3 separate regions of the Homo sapiens genome follow, and all the other regions are linked to region 1. The links come from fine-mapping of genetic effects on gene expression. A gene starts in region 1. Each other region holds a variant in brackets. All regions are shown on one strand. Distances are from middle to middle.

Region 1 (5,218 bases):
ATTAGTCAGGAGTGGTGGCACTTATCACAGCTACTTGGGAGGCTGAAGTGGGAGGATCACCTGAGCCCAGGAGGTTGAGGCTGCTGTGAGCTGATGGTGCCATCGCACTCCAGCCTGGACAACAGAGTGAGACCCTGTCTCTAAACAAAAATAAATTGTTTTTTTTTCTACTGGACTTAAACAATCTGCCCTCCTTGGCCTCCCAAAGCACCAAGCCTGTGTCTTCTTTTTCATCACAGCCGTGGCAGAAGGAAGGAGGTGACTGGAAGCCCCACTCTCTCTGAGTAGCTGAGGGAATACACCCTGACTATAGGCCGAGACAGTCCACATCAGCTCTTCAATAGGATTTAGTGGCTTTGCATAAAATGGAAAAGCAGCTGTGATTGCAAGAGAAATTAAAAATAACCACCATCTGAAATGCAAATTGAAAACAGTGAGACAACACATGTCACTCTGGCAGGTGACCCACTGTGCTGGTGAAGGCATGCAGGCACTCTCAGACTTCCGCAGAGAGACCTGAGTAATCAATTGACTTCCACAAAGGGCGACTTGCCAACAGCTATCAAAAGTACTCAGGCACATCCCACTTGGCCCAGCAATTCCACTTCCAGGAATTTCTCCTGCAGAAATACATGTGCACAAACAACGTAGGAAAGCACTGTTTATAGTAACAACCCAACTAGGACAGACCAGGTATATTTAGACAACAAACAAGGAAGCTTTTTACTAAATTGGGATGATCTCTAAGAAGAAGGTACGTAGAAAAAGCAAGGTGGGAGAACACGCTATGTGCTTGTACTATGCACGTCAATGAAAAAATACACAAAGAATTGACAGGCCAGGTGGAGTGGCTCACACCTAATCCCAGTACTTTGGAAGACTGAGATGGGAGGGTTCCCTGAGGCCAGGACTTCAAATCAGCCTGGGCAACATAGCAAGACCCCCCCACATCTCTACAAAAAAATTAAGAAAAAAATTAGCCGGGCATGGTGGTGTGTACCTGTAGTCCCAACTACTGAGGAAACTGAGGTGGGAAGATCCCTTGAGCCAGGAGGTCGAGGCTGCATGGAGCTTTGATCGTACCACTGCCCTCCAGCCTGAGCAACAGAGTGAGAAAAAAAACAGACTTTTTTTCTATTTCTGGAAAAAAATAAAGAATTTATAAGTATGATGGTTCTGGTAATAGAAGTAGGTGGCTAGGCAGAGTGGACACTTCACACTGCATACTCCCCTATTTTCCGAAATCTGAGTTTTTTTTTTTTTTTTTTTTTTTTTTGAGATGGAGTCTTGCTCTGTCACCCTGGCTGGAGTACAGCAGCACCATCTCGGCTCACTGCAACTTCCGCCTCCTGAGTTCAAGCAATTGTCCTGCCTCAGCCTCCCCAGTAGCTGGGATTACAGGCGTGCACCACACGCCCACCTAATTATTGTATTTTTAGTAGAGACAGGGTTTCACCATGTTGGCCAGGCTGGTCTCAAACTCCTGACCTCGTGATCCGCCCACCTCGGCCTCCCAAAGTGCTGGGATTACAGGTGTGAGCCACCATGCCCAGCCAATCTGAGCTATTTAAAAACTAAAGGTAAAATTTTAAAAGGGGAAGGGGAAAATGGGAAGTCATTGTTTTAAGGGGACAGAGTTTCTGTTTGGGGTGAGAAAACTCTAGAAATAGTGGGGGCGTGGCACATGATTGGAATGAATGGCAGGGAACGGCACGCTTAAATGTTCCTGTACGTTTCACAGGAGAAGTCAATGCACACACAAGCGCCGCAACCCAGTCCAAGGCTTTGCTCCTACAGGGCCTTACAGGGGGTATTTGAGACGCCCACCTTAATGCAGGTTGGACCCAGCTCCGGGCTGCGGGGCTTCCCCGCCCCGGGGTCTTTCGTGTGAGCCCCGTGGCGGGGGATCCTGGCCCAGGACATGGCGCGGAGAAGGCTGTGGGCGGCGGGACAGGGTGCCTTCGGCTGCCGGGTTAAGAGTGGATCCCGGGATACATCCTCCAGCGCCTGCCCTCGGGCCTGTGTGCACCCCCATACCCAGCGGGGCCGTCCAAGAGCTTCAAGGAGGGCACAGCGCGACCCGCCCTCCCCTCAGCCCCGCACACCGTCCCACGGCCCCGCACAGCCTCCCTCCCACACAGCGCCCCACGGCACCCGCACAGCGCCCCACGGCCCCTTCATGGTCCCCGCACAGCGCCTCACAACCCGCACACAGCGCCTCACGGACCCTTTACGGCCCCCGCAGAGTCTCCCACACGGCGCCCCACACAGAGCCTCACGGACCCCGCACAGCGCCTCAAGGTCTCCGCACAGCCCCCAGCACAGCGCCTCACACAGCCCTTCGCACAGCCCCCCGCACAGCTCCTCACGGGCCCCACACAGCTGCCGCACAGCCCCGCACAAGCCCGCACAGCACCAGCAGACAGGTAGCCCCCACAGGCAACAGCGCCCACCTCGCCGCGCCCAGACCCCGGATCGCCGACGCGGACGCCAGGCGCCTGGGCACACGGCGCCTGCGCAGACAACACCACGCCCCAGGCCTGGCGAGCGCACCCTGCGGGTGGGGCGGACCTACGTCAGCAACCCATCGTCCGATCCCGTCCATTGGCTGAGAGGTAATGCGTGCGCCCGACTCGCCGCTGATTGGTCGGCGCGCGAGCAGCCGGGCTCGCACGGGCCAATCCTGTGGTAGCGCGTGAGGAGGCAGAGGCCTCTGGGGTGGGATCGCGGGCCGTAAGTGGCTGTGGAGCTGGGGTCACTGCGCGGTGGGACCATGGCCTCGGAGAAGCCGCTGGCGGCAGTCACTTGTACAGCGCCGGTCAACATCGCGGTCATCAAGTACTGTGAGTGCCGCGGGCCGGCCTGGGACGGGGATGGCCGGGAGCGAGGCCGGGTACGCGGGGGTCGCGCGCTGATTCGGCGGCGCGCTCCGTCCTGCCCTCCCAGGGCCTCGACAGACGGGGAAACTGAGGCTCAGGGAGGGGCGCGGCGGTGGTCGGGCGGGGCCGCGCGCTCCTTCGCGTGACAAGCTCGGCGCCACCCGTTCCCCCGCGACGGCTGCCGCCCCTGCAGGGTCGCCCGGCGCCTGCCCATTAGCGATTACCGAACTATCGAAATCATCAATCATCGATTCCCATGAATCGTAAGAATCCGCCGTGGTGGTGCGCGTTTGTGGCTCCAGCTACTCGGGAGGCTGAGGCGGGAGGATGGCCAGAGCCCGGGAGGTCGAGGCTGCAGTGAGCGGAAATCGCGCCACTGCTCCCCCAGCCCGAGACCCTGTGTCCCTCCCTCGCCCCGTTTCTCCCAGCGGTAACCTCCAAGGAGCGGTAATGGGGGGCCCGCAGGCCCACATCCGTGCCGGGGAGGCCGGTCCGCACCTGTGCGTTCACAGCCCCGCCCCTCCCCTCGCGCCGGGGTTACCTGGCCGCCACTGACCACTCATTTCTGTAACGTCATTTCAAAATGTTCTGAAACTGGAATCGCAGTTATGTGGCCCACCCAGTATCTTTTGAGTTTGGCTTATTTCATTCAGCATAGAATGTGGACGTGCCCCGGGATTGTATCAGTGCTTTGCCCCTCTGTTGCTGAGCCAGTCCGTGGAATCCATGGACCACCCTCTCTCTAGCCAAGGCCTCACCCCGCAAAGAGCATCTAACGTTTTCTTTCTTTCTTTCTTTTCTTTCCAGAAGCCGCCACCACGACTGGCTAATTTTTTTGTGTTTCCCTTACCAATAAAGCTGCCATAAAATGTTGTATACAGGTTTTTGTGTGAACATACATTTCCATTCTTCTGGGATAAATGCCCAGGAGTGCGGTTGCTGGGTCAGATGGTAGATATATATATATGCCTCTCTGTCTCTCTCTCTCTTTCTATGTATATATGTATGTTTGTGTGTGTGTATATATATATACACCTGTATAGATATATGTGTGTGTATATGTATACACCTATATAGATGTATGTGTGTGTATATATACATATATATATTATATATATACTTTTTTTTTTTAAAGAAACTGTCTAATTGTTTTTCAGAGTGGCTGGGCCATTTTGCATCCCTACGGTGATGCAGATTTTCCGCATCCTCACCAGCATTTGGTGGAGTTGCTGTTTTTCATTTTAGCCGCGTCCTGGTAGGGATGTGCTGGCAGGGTGCTGTGGTCCTCATTCGCGTTTCCCTGTTGGCCAGTGACGTGGAGCATCTTTCTTTGTGCTTATTTGCCATCTGTGGGTTTTCTTGGTGAAATCTCTCTTCATATTCTGTGTCCACGCTCGAACTGGATGGTTTGCTTTTTTACTATAAGTTTGGAGAGTTCATTACACATTCTAGGCTGGGCACGCTGGCTCAAGCCTGTAATCCCAGCACTTGGGGAGGCTGAGGTGGGCGGATCACCTGAGGTCAGGAGTTTGAGACCAGCTTGGCCAACATGGTGAAACCCCCGTCTCTACTGAAAAAAAATAAAATATGTATTCTAGATATTAGTCTCCTGTTGGACATGTGGTTTGCAGGTATTGTCTCCCAAACTAGCTAATCTTTTTGTCCTCTTAACAAAGAGCCAGTTTTTCATTTTAAAGAAGTTCAGTGTATCAATGTTGATGTCAAGTCTAAGACCTCTTTGCTTAGCCCTATGTCCTGAAGATTGTCTGCTTTCCTCCAAGTTGTACAGGATTGCCTTTTATATTTAAGTCTGTGATCCAAGGTTGTCCAGTTAGCCCAGAAAGGCTATCCTTCCTCTATTGAATTGCTTTTGCACTTTTGTAAAAAAAAAAATCAGCTGGGCATGTTTGTGTGGGTCTATTTCTGGATTTTCTCTTCTGCTATTTTTTTTTTTTTTTTTTTTTTTTTTGAGACAGAGTCTTGCTCTGTCACCCAGGCTGGAGTGCAGTGGCACAATCTTGGCTCACTGTAACCTCCGCCTCCTGGGTTCAAGCAATTCTCCTGCCTTAGTCTTCTGAGTATTTGGGACTACATGCACGTGCCACCACACTTGGCTAATTTTTGTATTTTTAGTAGAGATGGGGTTTCACCGTGTTAGCCAGGCTGGTCTGAAGCTCCTGACCTCGTGATCTGCCCACCTCAGCCTCCCAAAGTGCTGGGATTACAGGTGTGAGCCACCGCGTCTGGCCTTTTATTTTTATTTTTTATATTTATTTATTTTATATTTATATTTTTATATTTATTTGTATTACTTTTATATTTATTTTTTTGAGACAGAC
Region 2 (5,218 bases), 400 kb after region 1:
GTCCTCATCCACAGAAGCCCTCTGTGCCACCAGCAGGGAACAGCCAGCAAAGAGCCTTCACCCTGAAGATCCAGACGGAATTCTTGGTTTCTACAGCTGCTCCCTGCCTCTCCCCACAGCCACGGGAAGGGGAGTTAACCGAGGCAGCCCCCACCCGAGACAGACCTGCACAGGGCCAAGAACTTGCCCTGTGGTAGGGCTGGGGGAGGAGCGGCTGGTGGACTTTCTGTGTCAAAGGCAGGTGTCACTTTCAGCTCATTAATTTCACTTCTCCAGGTTCTCAATCCACCAAAATGAGCTCTTTACAAAGGCCAGGACCTGCCCTTCTAGAGGACAGGCTCATACTTCCCAAAGCTTCAGGACTTCGGGTCCTGTGGCTGCCCATCCGTCAGCAGAACTGGGTGAGGCCAGGTGTGACATCAGACAAGTCCCCCGCCTCTGGCAATTCCTCAGCGGGGGGCATGACCTACTGTGCATTCCAGGGCTGCGGCACATGTACTTACCCCTTAGCCTTGGACCACAAGCCTCCCCCAGCCCAAAATGGAATGGGGACAGCCTCTGCCACAGGGAGGGGCAGGTGGTGCCGTGTGAGGGGCGGTGGCACCCAGGGCTTTTCTCACAAGGAAAAGGAACCTCAAAGTGTTTCTCTCTGCACACTTTGCCTCCCTCAAATGCGGGCTCCTTCCTCTCCCACCCGCATCAGCAGCTGAGGCCCCAGAAGGGCCCACCTGTGTCCCGCCCACCATGCGTGAGATCGCTGATTGCCTCCTGGGATAGTGGCAGCGTGCTCGAGCCTCTCCGGACCGCATCCCAGCTGTTAGAACCAGGAAGCCCCCGTCAGGCACCAAGACCCCCAGACGCTGGCCCGGGCTCCCCATTTTCACTTGATCCTCTCCGCCGTGTTTCTGTCTTCCTGGGGCTGCAGGCGTTTTGGTCATGGCTGCATCACACCAGAGTCTGCGTCCGTGGCCACGCAGCCTCCTCCTTTTCTCCGTGTCTTAAACTTCTTTCTGTTCCCTCTTATCGGGACCTCCTGATGCCATCAGACGCCGCCCCACCATGGTTCAGAACAATCTTTCCATCTCAAGATCCTCAGTTCAATCACATCTGCAGAGACCCTTTTTTTCTGTGTAAAGTAGCATTCACAGGTCCCAGGGATTAGGATCTGATATCTCTGGGGCCAGTACAGATGGGTTTGAGATTTGATCATGGAGAAAAGAAATGACGGCATTTAGCTCTATATCCTAGTCAACACGGAGCCGCGAGCATGATTGAGAAGAACGTCAAAGATCAAGCAGTTTTGTAAAAGAGTAAAGCCCCTCCACTCTCCTAAACCCAGCCAATTTCTCAAAATTTGTGAGAGCGGCGTCCTCCCAGCAGCAAACACAAGGGACACGTGTGTGCACCCAGACCAGCACCTACCACTCTAGACAGTCCCCAGAGCGAGGCTTAGGACTGACGGCCGGAGATGCAACCGTGGCCAGGGGCCCAGAGCTCATTGAAACCTGCTCAGTCCAAGGCCTTAGGCTGAGCCTGACATCGTGTCGTATTGTGGAAACACTCGTTCCCTCATTCAGCCGAATGCTTTTTAAAGCGACTTTTTGGCTGGGCACGGTGGCTCGCGCCTGTCAACCCAGCACTTCGGGAGGCCGAGGTGGGAGGATCATTTGAGGTCAGGAGTGTGAGACCAGCCTGACCAATATGGTAAAACCCTGTCTCTACTAAAATACAAAAAAAAAAAAAAACACTAGCAGGGCGTGGTGGTGTGCGCCTGTAATCCCAGCCACTCAGGAGGCTGAGGCAGGAAAATCACGTGAACCCGGGAGGCGGAGGTTTCAGTGAGCCAAGATCTTACCACTGCACTCCAGCCTGGGTGACAGAGTGAGACTCTGTCTCGAAACAAAAAAACAAAAAAACAAAAAAAAAGTGACTTTTTATCTTTTTATTCTAAAACAGTTTTAGATGTACAGAAAAAATATGTAAATCTGTAAATGTCCGGATGGGGCTTGTGTCCTAGGAGTAAGACATCAGCTCTGCTGCTCAGATGTCCAGGAGGGTCTTCGGCGGAGCCTGCAGCCCCCCACCCCAGGGTCAGGGGTCTCTCCCTGGAGGGAGGGATCAGCGCCTGGACTTTGGGGAGGCCGCTTGGGGGCCACGGTGTGTGGAGACCCTGGGACATTGGTGTGAGTGCAGGTGGGGGTGAGACGCAGAGGAGAGGCATCTTGGGAGGAGAAAGAGCGCGGTGCCTGGGGGTGGCTGTCAGGCTGGGAGATCCTGGGGCTCATAGGGATTCTGGGGTCCCAGGGAACCCCTAAGTTTGGAGGCTGGACAGGCCCCCAGCTGCCGTGGCCCTGGAGAGTTCCCAGAGTATTTCCTGACGAAATGAACAGAAGACCACAGCCTTCTGCAGCGGAGGAGAAGCATGCGGGGCATCCACATCTACAAAGGCCCCAAAGTGGAAAAACCTGTTGTTTTTCCTGAGCAGCCCGGCTGGAAACAACGGCGGTTTTGTTTCGCAGACTCCGCAGAATCTGGCGGGCAGAGGGATGGGGGCGCGGGATGCGGCTGAGGGAAGGAGGGGGCGTCGACCCTTCCTGACCCACCGAGGACACCTCTCTGGCCCGCTTCGGGGGGGCGGGGGGTGGGTCGGCTTGCCCGGGAGGAAATCCCACTGCTTCCCACTCACAAGCCGGTGGGTGGCCGCGAGGCCTGGCCGCACGGCCTCATTCCTGCGACTTTCTTCTGCCTTGTGGCATG[G/C]CTTTTTCTTTTCCCCTAAGGAAAGTTTGCTTAAAGAGAAAGAGACACACATACCATTCTCTGGTCCTTTGAAGGGTTGAGCTAAGCTGGGTCAAGAGGAAATGGCGTGCTCAGTCACCCCTGAGAACAAAATACTCCCACGAGTTTTGGTGAGGCACGTGTGTCTTCTCAGCTCAAATCTCTACCACCCCACGGACAAGGCAGTTCAAATCCAGGCTCACCACCACCTGCTGTGTGGGTTGGGCAAGCTGTGGACATCTCTGAGCTTCGGTTCCTTGAGTGTAGAATAAGCATAACATCTGTGTAGAAGGATTACTGTGAGGGATGCTGTTTGTACACCTCCCACTGCCAGAACGCAAGTTCCATGAGGCTGGGGCTGCGTTTTCTGCATTGCTGCAAACCCTCTAAAATGTCATCCGAGTTCATCAGAACCACAAGGACCACCACCACCATCATCGTCACCCTCACCCAAACGCTCAAATCTCCAAGTGTCTAAACTCATGGGTCTGTGCCAAATGCTACCATGCTTAGCGTCCCCAAAGCTAGAGTCACCACGAAGAAGGTTCTCTCCAATATTACTGCCTTAAACTTCTAGCCCAGAACCCTCAATAAACTTGGGCACCTTTTGTGCTGGGCCTCCTTTAGCCGATGGCTCCAGGGCCCCTATCCCTGGCAGAGAAGGCCATCGGCAATGTAGGGGGTAAGCTGGGGGGGTGGGGGGGTGAGCCATTCAGCTCTGCTGAGCTGTGCTGTCTCATGGGAGTGGCCCCTCCCTTCCAGGAACCTTCCTTGAGCAAAATCCTCAAATGTCAGCAGGTGGTCTTGAAATCCCTTCCTCTGTGACACAGTAATTCAGAGATCTTAATGATGTTTCCCCAAAGTTAGAACATAGTGGCTGTTCCCTAACACACACACACACACACCCTTTCTCTGTTATGTGTCTCCCATAATTTTTCTGTTTCTCAATTATGTTTCTTTCTCTGTTATGTTTGTCTATTATTTCTTCTTTGAATTGTCAATGCCTGCTTCTACTGGTCTGTACCAGGTTCTATTGCAATCACCTCTGGTTGGGGCAAAACTGCACATTTAGCTATTTTATAAGTGTTTCCTTGTACTTCATAGAGGGCATCAGAGCCCTTGCAGCATGTGGGCACACGGGTCAGAGGATGCAGACTGAAAGGAGCTTCTGGACGCACATTCTATTCTCATTCTGGAGCCAAGGAAGTGAGAGGGGAAAAGGGAAGTGATTCTAAGCCTTTTGTGGGGTCTCATACATAACTCAGTTTCCACAAAGCTGTGCCCCAGCTCAGCCCTATGGATAGAAGCATGGTCTGGGGTTCCTTTGCTGACCAGGGTGTGTGCTTTGTCCAAGTTACTGACCTTCCCAAACCTCATCAATGCACATAAAAAGAGCACTTGCAAACAATGAATCTAGACATGGACCTTCACAAAGAAATAACTCAAAATGGATCCCAGGCCTAAATGAAAAATGAAAAACTATAAAACTCCTAGAAGATAACATAAAAGAAGATCTAGATGACCTAGGGTTTGGCAATGACTTTTTAGATCCAGCACCAAAGGCAGGATCCAGGAAAGAAATAATTGATAAGCTGGACTTCATTAAAACGAAAACTTCTGCTCTGTGAAAGATGCTGCCAAAAAATGAAAAGACAAGCCACAGACTGGGAGAAAATATTTTTGATGGAAATATCTGAGAAGAGAGGCTTGTTATCCAAAATATACAAAGAATTCCTAAAACTCAATAATTTGAAAATAAACAACCCAATTTAAAAAGTGGGCCAAAGATCTTAAATGACGCCTCACCAAAGAAGATACACAGATGGCAAATAAGCATATGAAAAGATGCTCCCGGCTGGGCACGGTGGCTCACGCCCGTAATCCCAGCACTTTGGGATGCCAAGGCAGGCAGATCACCTGAGGTCAGGAGTTGGAGACCAGCCTGGCCAACATGGCAAAACCCTTTCTCTACTAAAAATGCAAAAAAAAAAAAAAAAAAAATTAGTGGGGTATGGTGGTGCATGCCTGTAATCCCAGCTACTCAGGAGGCTGAGGCAGGAGAATCACTTGAACCTAGGAGGCGGAGGTTGCAGTGGGCTGAGATTGTGCCACTGCAGTCCAGCATGGGCAACAAGAGTGAAACTCCATCAACGAAAGAAAAGAAAAGAAAGAAAGAAAGAAAGAAAGAAAGAAAGAAAGAAAGAAAGAAAGAAAGAAAGAAGGAAAGAAAAGAAAAGAAAAGAAAGAAAGGAAGGAAAAAGGAAGGAAGAAAGGAAGGAAGGAAGAAAGAAAAGAGGCTCCTCACCACACATGTCATCAGGGAAATGCAAATTAAAATAAGCATAAGATATCGCCTCTCACCTAACAGCGTGGCTAAAACCCAGAACTCTGACAACACCAAATGCTGGGCGAGGATGTGGAGCAACAGGAACTCTCACTCATT
Region 3 (5,218 bases), 21 kb after region 1:
GACCTCGGGAGGAATTCCTTGTGCTAAACCCAGAGAGGAATTGCTGGGTCAGGCATCAGCCTCTGCACCGTTCACCCTGCCGGGCTCAGCTGCTCCTCAGCAGACAACCCACCACCAGCCATGTGGCCCCATCTCTCCCACCATGCACTAGGCTTTCTCCCACGCTTGCCAGTTTCACAGCACGAGCTGGCCGTGTGGAGCTTGGACTCGCCCTTCTCTGACTGTGGATTTGAGCTGTTGGAGTTTCTTCTCCCTTGAGTTGCCTGTTCAAATCCTTTGCCCATTTTTCTATTGTGGTTTTTGTATTTTTCTTTTTCTTCTTTTTTTTTTGAGATGGAGTCTCGCGCCATCGCCCAGGCTGGAGTGCAGTGGCGTGATCTCGGCTCACTGCAACCTTCGCCTCCTGGGTTCAAGCAATTCTCCTGCCTCAGCCTCCCGAGTAGCTGGGACTACAGGCACGTGCCACCATGCCTGGCTAATTTTTGGTATTTTTAGTAGAGACGGGGTTTCACCGCGTTAGCCAGGATGGTCTGGATCTCCTTGACCTTGTGATCCGCCCGCCTCGGCCTCCCAAAGTGCTGGGATTACAGGCGTGAGCCACCGCGCCCGGCCTGATTGTCTTTTTCTTAAGTTGCAGGAAGTCCACATATATTTTAGCTATTTAGCCTTTGTAACCTTTAAACACTGGGGATGCCTTCATGCTTTCTGGTGAGGGTCTGTTAACTTGGCGCGTGGAGTCCTTCACTGCACGGAAGAGCAGAGGTTTCCCTGTTCACCTGCTCTATGGTCTGTGCTTTGTGAAAACACCTTTCCCTGGCCCTGGGTCCTGCCTTCACGTTCCTGCCTTTTCTTCTATCAGCCTTCTAGTTTTGCTTTTCAGAATGGAATGTTTCCGTTTTGGAGTCAGGTAGGATCACACATGTCCAGTTTCTCTTTCTGTTCATGACGTATATGATGTGACATATTTTTCCACCAGATATTATGGGATAGAAGATGAAAAGCACACACTCCCAGGTCCACTTGACCTGTTGCAGTGGAACCTCCGGGCATGGGCCCAGGAGTCTGTATTTTTAGTAAAAGCCAGTGGAATCCCGTGGTCTTCAAGCTCTCCCCCCACCACCCCCATGTGCAGAAATGCCTGGGCACCCTTGGGGGGCTGCCGGCCAGCGTGGGTGAATGGCGCCCACCAGACGGAGCAGGGCCTGCTACTCTCCTGGGCCACCCCTCCTGCTGGACCTCGGGCCTGCCTCCCTGCCTTCCCTGCCCTTGGCACCTTGAGAGGAGAATTTGAGTACTAGAATTTGCATCTGGGAGTGTCCACCACGGGATCTTCCAGAAGCCCAGGGGTTCGGGCCCCACTCCTGGCATGAAGAAATAGCTTGGGCTGGTGTCAGGCCGACCCAGGTCCTGGCTGTGTGGCCTCGGGCGCGTCACTTAACCTCTCTGAGTGGCAGTCACACCATCCTGCGTGGGATTCAGACTTGAGCCTGTCCCAGGGCCCCTAGCGGGGTGGGCCTCCGGGGAGGGAGGGAGGGAGGGAGGGCGGGCGCTGGGGCGCGGCTCAACCCTTCAGTGCCCCGCAGGCGGCTGTGCGTGGCGAGCAGTGGACGCCCATCGAGCCCAAGCCCCGGGAGCGGCCGCAGATCGGAGGCACCATCAAGCAGCCGCCCAGCAACCCCCCGCCGCGGCCCCCGGCCGAGGCCCGCAAGAAGCCCAGCGAGGAGGAGGCTGCGGTGGCGGCGGGGGGACCCCCGGGAGGTCCCCAGGTCAACCCCATCCCGGTGACCGACGAGGTCGTGTGACCTCGCCCCGGACCTGCCCTCCCGCCAGGTGCACCCACCTGCAATAAATGCAGCGAAGCCGGGAGCGCGTGAGCCTCTGCCTGGGGCCGGTGGGCGGGGCTGGGGTAGCGATGGTTCCCGAGGCCTGGGCAGGCACCCCGTTTCCTGCCAGCCGGGCCGCATTCCAGTTTCATTAACATCAGCATCGCCTTCCTTCTCAGCAGCACACGAAATCCCGGGTACCGTATATTCCACGAAATATAGTACCTGGATTCCAGGTGTGTGCCTCCCTAGAAAGGTCCTCCCGGGCCTGGAGGAGGCAGCAGAGTCCTCCCTTGACAGCTCCTGCAGGCCCTGCAGGCCCTCCACACCTAACGCCTCCCTAAGGGGCTTGGATTCCAGAGGAGGCCGCTGGCGTTAAGTGAAAAGGGAACAGGGTCGGAGCCACGTGGTGAGCCTCTACCCTGCGCCTCTTTTCCGTAGAAGCTGGGGTGAAGCTGGTGGCGGATGTGGCCTTGTTTGCCCCCACACTGATGCTGGGGGGCCCCCCAGCTGCCCAGGACGCTCAGGCCAAGTTGCAGGGGCTTCTGGCCACCCCTTCCCCTCACTTGTGCGGAGGCTGTGGCTGGCTGCACACACACCTGCCCACAGGTCCTCACCACCACCCCAGCCCGGTGCCCCCAAAGCTTTGCCCGGCGTCAGCCACGTCCCCCACCTTTGGGCTCTCGCCAAGGCACCCACTCCCCTGAGGCCGGAGAAGCCCTTGCCTGCTGCTTGTCCACCTGCTCTCCCAGCAACTCACACTTCAGAGCCAGGGTCCTCTGTTCCTGGGGGCCTTCAGAATCCACCCCCCACCAGCCAACACTCGGCACCATACAGACGTCTCAATCCAGCCTCATCTCAGCCGTCCCCCCAGGTCACCAAGCTTCAGGTCACCCTTGAAACCCCCACACCCCACATCCAATCCTGGCCCAAATCCAGACCCCAGCTACATGGGCCATCCCCACCCAGGCCACCTGCCGCCTCCC[G/A]CTCTGCCCTCATCCCCTGAAACCATCCTGATGCTGCCATTGAAACCCAAAGCCTCACCCCAGTGCCTCCGGCTCAGAATCCGCAGGCTCAGAACCCACAGGCTCAGCTACCTCCAGTGACAGCCACAAGCTTCTGATGGCCCCAGGGCAGACATGATCTGCACCCCCAGCGCCCTGCCCTGCCCCTGCGGTCCCCCTCTCACCTGGCATCAGCCACGCAGGCCACTCTCTGACCCTTGGACACACGCAGCATGTGTCTTCTCAGGGCCTTTGCATGGGCTCTTCCTGCTGCCTGGAGCTGTTCCCTGCATGGCTGCCTGGCTCCTTCCTCCTCCCCTTCAGGTCTTCGAGGCCTCCCTGACCCTCTGCTTAGAACTGCAGCCCCTTGGCCGGGCGCGGTGGCTCACGCCTGTAATCCCAGCACTTTGGGAGGCCGAGGCGGGCAGATCATGAGGTCAGGAGATCGAGACCATCCTGGCTAACACGGTGAAACCCCGTCTCTACTAAAAATACAAAAAATTAGCCGGGCGTGGTGGCGGGCGCCTGTAGTCCCAGCTACTCAGGAGGCTGAGGCAGGAGAATGGTGTGAACCCGGGAGGCGGAGCTTGCAGTGAGCCGAGATCGCACCATTGCACTCCAGCCTGGGCCAGAGCGAGACTCCTCAAAAAAAAAAAAAAGAACTGCAGCCCCTCCCCCAGAGCCTCTGTCCTGGACTCACTCACAGACTACACACCACTTGTTTCATTAGTCACCGTGGAGGCAGGAAGGGTTTTCACCATTTTGTTCTCGGCCTGTTCCCAGTGCCAGGTGCTTAGTAGAAACTCATATGGCTGGGTGCGGTGGCTCACGCCTGTAATCCCAGCACTCTGGGAGGCCGAGGTGGGAGGATCACTTGAGCTCAGGAGTTCGAGACCAACCTGGCCAACATGGCGAAACCCCGCCTCCACTAAAAATACAAATATGAGTTGGGTGTGGTGGTGCACGCCTGTACTGGGAAGCTGAGCTGGGAGGATCGCTTGAACTCAGAAGGTGGGGGTGGCAGTGAGCTGAAGTCATACCACACTGCACTCCAGCCTGGGCAACAGAGCGAGACCCTTTTTCAAGAAAGAAAAGAAACTCAATAAATGTGTTGAATGAAAATTCCATCTCCTGGACAAGGGCCACCACCTCCAGGAAGTCTTCCCTGAGGCCTCTTGCTTTGGGAGTCTGAGTGGAGTCCTTGTTCTTCTGTGCAGCACCCCCACCCCCATCTCCAGGCACCTGGACGCAGTAGGTGGGTGAGCCAGGGGGCCAGGCAGGGGAGGGGCTAACAACTGCCCAGCAGCCCCATGGCAATGTCAGCCCTTGGGGCCGGGGGCCTAGAGACTGAGACCCTGAGACTGTCACAGGCCTGGGCCCCCTTTCCACGACTGGGGCTGCTCCCCCCGGGGCCCCTTAACTAAAATCTCCAACAGAGCCTGGGTCCCGAAGCGTGGCTAGTTCACCATCAGGGAGGGCGCTTGGCCTTGGATGTTGATCCGAACCACGAAGGCTGGGGGCCCTGCCTTGAGCCGACAGCCCTGCAGTTCATCCTCAGAGACTTGCCTTGGGGGCCGAGAGGGTGCCCCTAGGCGCTCACATCATTACAAAGCATAGGGCTCAAGGCACTGCTTGAGGAAGGAGGCTGGTTCCTGTTCCCAGGGGTGTCCTCAGGGGAGACACTGTGTGGGCAGAGCAGGGACACCTGTGACCCCCCCGTGCTACAGCTCAGTCCCACCTGCATGCACTGCTCGCGGCTGCGTAGACCTTTCTGGAAGGACACCCCAGAATTGGGTCCATGGCTGGCCTGGACCAGGGCTGAACGGGAGAATGTCGCATTGAATGTTGGCCTCTGGGGATGTGTTCATCAGTTTAATAATACACGTACACTTAAATAATTGTTTAAGAAACAGGGGTACTTCCAAGGAGGTTGGGAAGAGGCAGCCTGCGGGGGCCTGAGGCCAGTGATAGGGTAAGGGAAGCCGGGAGCAGGACAGGGAGCCAAGGTACAGGCAGCCGTGTGACACCTTTTCTGCAGCTTTAAGGGCTGGAAGAGGTGCTGAGCTCCTTCTACCCCCAACTACTGAGGCTGGAGATGAGGAGAACAGTGGGGGGCTGTCCTCCAGACACGGGGAATGCCCAGACCCCAAGGGTAGTGTTGGGGGAGGCATATAAATAACAATAAATACACATAAATAGGGGGTGCCCTCTGGGGAGCACACGTGTCCAGTCTAGGGGCCCCACGGCCTCGGCGGTCACACTGAACGGGGCAGCACGCAGGTGCAGCCGACGGGGACGTGGATGAACTCGGTGTGGAAGGCAAAGGCCCCAGGTGTGGGGAGCCCCGAGCCGTCGCGGGAGCAGGGCCGGCGGCGCAGCACCAGCAGGCTC

The links. PIP is the estimated chance that this variant, and not a neighbour inherited with it, causes the effect.
Region 2: its variant is the best candidate, but not a certain one, in a credible set for the expression of MVD in neutrophils (BLUEPRINT, PIP 0.75).
Region 3: its variant is the best candidate, but not a certain one, in a credible set for the expression of MVD in whole blood (INTERVAL, PIP 0.68).

Annotation. Positions count from the first base shown.
Region 1 is chr16:88,660,636-88,665,853 of GRCh38, reverse strand. MVD (mevalonate diphosphate decarboxylase) reads left to right here and starts at 2,763. Exons shown (of 10, transcript NM_002461.3): 1 at 2,763-2,843. The coding sequence starts at 2,774. It overlaps SNAI3-AS1 (SNAI3 antisense RNA 1), which reads right to left and starts at 2,481. Exons shown (of 4, transcript NR_024399.1): 1 at 2,454-2,481. RefSeq lists silencers at 2,099-2,258, 2,599-3,018 and an enhancer at 2,469-2,518.
Region 2 is chr16:88,256,674-88,261,891 of GRCh38, reverse strand. It overlaps LOC124900374, which reads left to right. Exons shown (of 2, transcript XM_047435026.1): 2 at 1-1,745. LOC107984862 (a long non-coding RNA gene) reads left to right here. Exons shown (of 3, transcript NR_171663.1): 3 at 1-1,338. It also overlaps a transcript of ZNF469 not described here. Among named protein-coding and RNA genes, the nearest start is that of LINC02182, 65 kb to the right of the region's middle. RefSeq lists enhancers at 404-1,269, 2,440-3,186. The variant G/C (reference allele first, on the strand shown) is at 2,758.
Region 3 is chr16:88,639,937-88,645,154 of GRCh38, reverse strand. IL17C (interleukin 17C) reads right to left here. Exons shown (of 3, transcript NM_013278.4): 3 at 4,687-5,218. The coding sequence ends at 5,083. CYBA (cytochrome b-245 alpha chain) reads left to right here. Exons shown (of 6, transcript NM_000101.4): 6 at 1,584-1,866. The coding sequence ends at 1,802. Among named protein-coding and RNA genes, the nearest start is that of IL17C, 4.0 kb to the right of the region's middle. RefSeq lists an enhancer at 3,711-4,538. The variant G/A (reference allele first, on the strand shown) is at 2,810.